Linked DNA regions of Homo sapiens: region 2 is linked to region 1. The links come from fine-mapping of genetic effects on gene expression. A gene starts in region 1. The other region holds a variant in brackets. All regions are shown on one strand. Distances are from middle to middle. Region 1 holds the start of ZNF623 (zinc finger protein 623). Region 2 overlaps LOC105375799 (a long non-coding RNA gene).

The links.
Region 2: its variant is fine-mapped to the expression of ZNF623 in lung (TOPMed, PIP above 0.99).

The regions. Positions count from the first base shown.
Region 1 is chr8:143,634,299-143,637,202 of GRCh38, forward strand. ZNF623 (zinc finger protein 623) reads left to right here and starts at 1,721. Exons shown (of 2, transcript NM_001261843.2): 1 at 1,721-1,847.
Region 2 is chr8:143,667,663-143,670,566 of GRCh38, forward strand. LOC105375799 (a long non-coding RNA gene) reads left to right here. Exons shown (of 4, transcript XR_928737.3): 3 at 183-255; 4 at 557-825. Among named protein-coding and RNA genes, the nearest start is that of ZNF707, 15 kb to the right of the region's middle. RefSeq lists enhancers at 1,384-1,884, 1,885-2,385. The variant A/G (reference allele first, on the strand shown) is at 1,756.

The sequences.
Region 1 (2,904 bases):
CAGGTGTACAAGGCAGATTTTGATCTGTGACAACCTGCTCAGGCGGTGTTCTCAAGCTCTTTGGGCCTGCGGACAGGGAGGCTGAAAGGTCTGTAAGCCCTGTGGGGAAGAGGCCTCAAGCCCTTCTCGCCTTAAGAGCTGGGTCCCATGGTAAGCTGGCAATAGGGTTGCAGCAGCCAAGGTCTCCGGGCCTGGATGAGAGGTGGGGTCGCTCAATGTAGGGCTTTCACACACACCCCTGGAACACAGAAGCCTTTCCAAGAGCCGGGGAGCCCCTGGAGAATCACAGCAGGAGTTCCACATGGATTCTGCCCTGGAATTCCTGTAGAAGGTCCTTGGATGAGGGCACGCGCCTAGCGTGTCCCCCTTGGCCACAGCTCCTTCTCCCACGTTGCTTCTCTTCCTTTATTCACCCTGGTACCTGGCCTTGGTACCTGGGCTGTCCTCCTCATCAAAGGGACAATTCAAAACTCTGCAGTTGATTTTAAGAAAGTAGGTGAATTTATTGGCTGGGAAAGACTTCATGTAGTTTTGCACTTTAGGTTACTTCTAATTCTTTGTTTGCTTCTGTCAAAATTTAAAAAGGACCTATTCAAGTGGTCAACTGACAGGTCATTAAGTACACTTGGTGATAAACTGCTGTTATGTTTTTTGCATATAAGTCAGAAAGAGCTAAAGAAATTGAGCGTCGGCTGGGAACAGCGGTTCACGCCTGTAATCCCAGCACTTTGGGAGGCCAAGGCGGGTGGATCACGAGGTCAGGAGATCAAGACCATCCTGGCCAACAAGGTGAAACTCTGTCTCTACTAAAAATACAAAAATTAGCTGTGCGTGGTGGCGCATGCCTGTAATCCCAGCTACTCCAGAGGCCGAGGCAGGAGAATCGCTTGAATCAGGGAGCCATAGGTTGCAGTGAGCAGAGATCACGCCACTGCATTCCAGCACTCCAGCCTGGTGACAGAGCGAGAGTCCATCTCAAAAAATAAAAATAAAAATAAATTGAGCGTCATTGCTAAAACAAAATTCCTCCCAATCCTATCTAACAATTTAGGTAAACAAGTTTCCTCAGTGCTAGCAGAAAAATGGAAAAAGAAAACCCAAAATACGAATATAATGTTTTTTTGGTGGGGGGGGGGGGCAGGGGAATGTAATTATTTCGATTATTTCGGACTGTGACTCATTCTAGCAATGAGTAATGTCTACCAAGAATCAATGAGCCGGCGCGGTGGCGCGCGCCTCTGGTCCCAGCACTTTGGGAGGCCGAGATGGGAGGACCACCTGAGCCCGGGAGGTCGGGGCTGCAGTGAGCCGAGATCGCGCCACTGCACTGCAGCCTGGGCGACAGAGCGAGACCCTGTCTTAAAAAAACCAAAACCCGAAAACCAAAAAACTCCACAGCGCGCCGCTTCCCCACTTCTCTGGGGCGCAGAGAGGTGAAGTTTGGCCCTCACGGTATTTACTTCCCCTGGATCCTCGCCTCCTGAGAAGCTGGTCTTGGGCTGCGGTCGGACCTCGCCGCGAGCTCCAGACCCGAGTTTCCGAGCCCGCGCTTCCCGGCCCGCAACCCTCCCAACCGCGTAGCAACGCCGCTCCTGCCGGACACCCCTGGCCCCTCCGGGGGTCTTAGTCCCCGGGCCCGGAAGTCCGCACCACTGAGAGGGGAGCCGATCCCTGGCGCTCCTAGAACGGCGCAGGAAGTTTCCCAGGCGGGGCCTCTCGCGACTTCCGGTCGCGGCGGGCTGGCGGCGGTGCAGGCTTTGTCGGCTGATCTGTGGGGCCCGCGCCGGCGGGGTCCAGTCAGCGGCTGCAGGGTCGGGCTCGCGCCGTCCTCTCCCCGCCCGCGCCGGGTGAGTGGCGCGTTCCGGACGGGGGCGGGCAACGCCTTAGCCGCAGCCCCGGCTGGCTCCGGAGCCCGGCCGCCTTGCCAGGGCACAGTCCGCCGAGAGGGCCGGGCGGGGTCCGCAGGCCGCTGCCCGCCCCGCTAGGGCGTCCAGGAGCGGGGCCTTGGCTAGTCAGTCTCCCGGACGCAGCCACGGCCGCCCCCGCGAGGCTGCGGCGTCTCTCCAGCGAGCCCGCCTCGGGCCCGAGCCTGGGGTCTTGTCCCTGAGGAGCGCCGTGTGGGTACCCCTGGTTCCCTCTCCTTCCCCCCGCCCTGAGCCCAGGCCGGAGAGCCGCGGGCTTGAGTGTCCGTGTCGCAGTCTTCAGGTCCGCCAGGCCTGCGTGAGGTTGATGCCGCAGACATGTTTTACGGTGTGGCAGGACTGGGTGTGGGCGTTCCCGCGGCTGTGCCTGAACCCTGCCTCCGCTCCCTGGGGCCTCGAGGCCTCTCGGTGCTGGAGGAGATGCAGCGCCAGCATCTTCTGTGCTGTTGGGGATAGGGGTGGGGAGGGAAACATGATGAGCAGAATTAGAATTAAGTACAAGACTTGGACCTGGAGAATTCCCAGATGGGGAGAGGTGGTGTGGCTACGCTGTCCTGCTTTTTCTTGAAGGTACCCTTTTCCCTTCGCGTCTTTAAGAATCCCAGTGGCGTTCTCTGTGCTTCTGTCAAGGCTGTCTTGCTCCCTTCACACACAGGCTACGTCATGGTCCAGGGACTCTCAGGGTCTGGGCAGCGCCTGGATGCTGGCCTCAGACTCATAGGTAGTTGGTGTGAAGCAGCTCAGGGAGCTGCCGAGCTTGTCTTCGCTGCCTCAGGGTCATGGAAGATGACCCAGGAGAGGACACAGGGGGCTCGTCGTTGTCCTTGGGCAGAGCCCTGAGCAGCATGCCGGTAGCAGAAGCCAAATGGCCTGGGTGGGGCGGGGGCAGTTGACAGCTGGCTCCAGTTCTCTGACCTTACGCTTCTTACCTCCCTGAACTTCCGGGGCATCGTGGGGAGCACTAGGAACAGAAGCGCTCCCT
Region 2 (2,904 bases), 33 kb after region 1:
AAGGCAAGGTTTTCTTCCAAGTGGGAAGAAAGATGGTGGATAGGATTTTTACGGAGTGTTGAAAGAGCTACTTGGAGAATCAGAAAGAAGATTAGTTGTTGGGAGGCACAGAGTGAGTACTGAGAAAACCAAGGGCCCAACTGAGGCTTGAAACTGCCAATTCTCCATTTACTGTCTTTCAGCTTCAAATACATACTTCATCGCCTGCTTGGTGAAAATGGAGCTGGGCCCTAAATTGTTTCTCCTTTAAAGCAGGTATGACGTTAAGCTTTGTAAGTAGAGGGCACTGGAGGGACCCTGCAGGAGGAAAGTGCTTCTCTTCCTGTTCTGCACTTTCTTCTGTTTTCTTCTTGTTCCTGCCATGTGGCTGCCAGCACACTCAGTGTTGCTCACCCCCAGCCAACTTCACTTGCAATGCCATGGGTGGATCCCCGTGAGTCTTGCAGATGCTCCACTGGTCAGCATCCAGCCTCAGCCTGCCCCAGAGAGGTGTTTCCTGCTTGCCAGTCCTGGCCAGGCTCCCTACCTGCCACCTTCAACCCCTCTACACCTGCAGGAGTGATTGCCCATTGACTGTGGACCAGCTCTGGCTACGGGAAAACCAGAGAACCTCTCCATCATCCATACTGCACCAAACAGCATCTCTGCAACCACACCTTTTCCAAGATTTGAGCCCCAGCCTTGGGGAGGAGGCCATCTTTCACATTTTCTCCTTCCTTGGGAACTCTCTGTCAGCCCAGAGTATTCTTTTGCATTATCTTTAGCCCTGTACAGATAATTCCATTATAGTAAATAATCCTTTATATTAAACGTTCCTTGCCCAAATGACTGTGCAGTTTCTGTCTGCTGATTGATTGCGCCCTGATGCAGAAAGGTAAAGTAACTTGACATGTTGCACAGCTGGCCCACACAATCACACAGCTGAGACTGCACAAGGACAGCTTCCTCTCAAATGTGTTGGAAATAAGAGCTTGGAGTCGCAAAGAAAATGAGCACTCAAGGCTGGGCGCGGTGGCTCACACCTGTAATCCCAGCACTTTGGGAGACCAAGGTGGGCAGATCACGAGGTCAGGAGATCTAGAGCATCCTGGCAAATATGGTGAGACCCCGTCTCTACTAAAAAAAATACAAAAAATTAGCCGGGCAAGATGGCGGGCACCTGTAGTCCCAGTTACTCGGGAGGCTGAGGCAGGAGAATGGCGTGAACCCAGGAGGCGGAGCTTGCAGTGACCTGAGATTGCACCACTGCACTCCAGCCTGGGCAACAGAGCAAGACTCTGTCTGAAAAAAAAAAAAAAGAAAAGAAAGAAAAAAAAAAAAAGAAAATGAGCACTCAAATACTAAAAACACACACAAAAAATTAGCCAGGGCTGGTGGTAGACACCTGTAATCCCAGCTACTCAGGAGGCTGAGGCAGGAGAATCGCTTGAACCTGGGAGGCAGAGGTTGCAGTGGGCCAAGACTGTGTTACTGCACTCCAGCCTGGGCAACAAGAACAAAACTCCATCTCAAAATACAAACAAAAAAAAACTTCCACTGGCTTTTTTTTGAGTGCTCACAAATTTGCCTTCTCAGCAAGGCAAATTTACTTCTGCAGAAGAGTGCCGCTCTCTCTTCTGGCCACTGGGAGAGCACACCGAACAAAGCAGGGCAGGGGTGTTTATCCCTAAAGCAGTCACGCCCTGCTACTGTGTCCAGTCCCCATTGGCTGGAGTCGCACCACACCATCTAAGCCGATCCCCATTGGCTACTTCA[A/G]ATGGATCAGGGGCGGCTACAGTGGCCAAATAAGGAACAGATGTGGGTTTTACAGGTTGGGCTGCAGATTGGGAACAGATGTGGGTTTTACAGGTTGGGCTGCAGATTGGGAACAGATGTGGGTTTTACAGGTTGGGCTGCAGATTGGGAACAGATGTGGGTTTTACAGATTGGGCTGCAGATTGGGAACAGATGTGGGTTACAGATTGGGTTATAGATTGGGAGTGGCTGGAAGGTTGTTTGCTGTAAAGTGGAACCTTTGAAGAGGAACTCACTGTATCTAACAAATGTAAATCCAATTATGTCGAGTCTACTTCAAAACTTCCTGCCAGGTGTGGTGGCTCACACCTGTAATCCCAGGAAGTGGGCACGTTTTCCATGGCCAGAGCAGGAGGAGGAGAGGAGTGGGGAGGTGCCACATACTTTTTTTTTTTTAATTCTCCAATTTAAAACTTTTAGTTAAAAAGTAAACTTTAATGTTGAAAATGCAAACTTGGGGCAGGTAGAAAGATTACACACAAGGCTATCACTTCACATTTGGAGGGTTGCACAGCAGCCGGGCAAAGGCGCTCCTCACTTCCTAGACAGTCGGGGGACCCGGGCAGAGACGCTCCTCACTTCCCAGACAGTGGGGGTACCCGGGCAGAGGTGCCCCTCACTTCCCAGACGATGCCGAGGCTGGGGTGCCACATACTTTTAACAGACCAGATCTCAAGAGAACTCACTATCACCAGAAGGGCACCAAGTGGGAAATCCGCCCACATGATCCAATCACCTCCCACCAGACCCCACCTCCAGCATTGAGGATGACAGTTGACATGGGATTTGGGTGGGGACACAGACCCAAACCATATCACTCCTGAAGAGCTAGGACTACAGGAATGCTATACCTGGCTAATTGTTTTTCTTTTTTTCGTTTGTTTGTGTTTTTTTTTTTTTAGATGGAGTCTCACTCTGTTGCCAAGGCTGGAGTGCAGTGGTGTGATCTCAGCTGACTGCAACCTCCCAGGCTGGAATGCAGTGGTACAATCTTTGCTTACTGCAACCTCTGCCTCCCGTGTTCAAGAGATTCTCCTGTCTCAGTTTCCCGAGTAGCTGGGACTACAGGCGCCTGCCACCACGCCCAGCTAATTTTTTATTTTTAGTAGA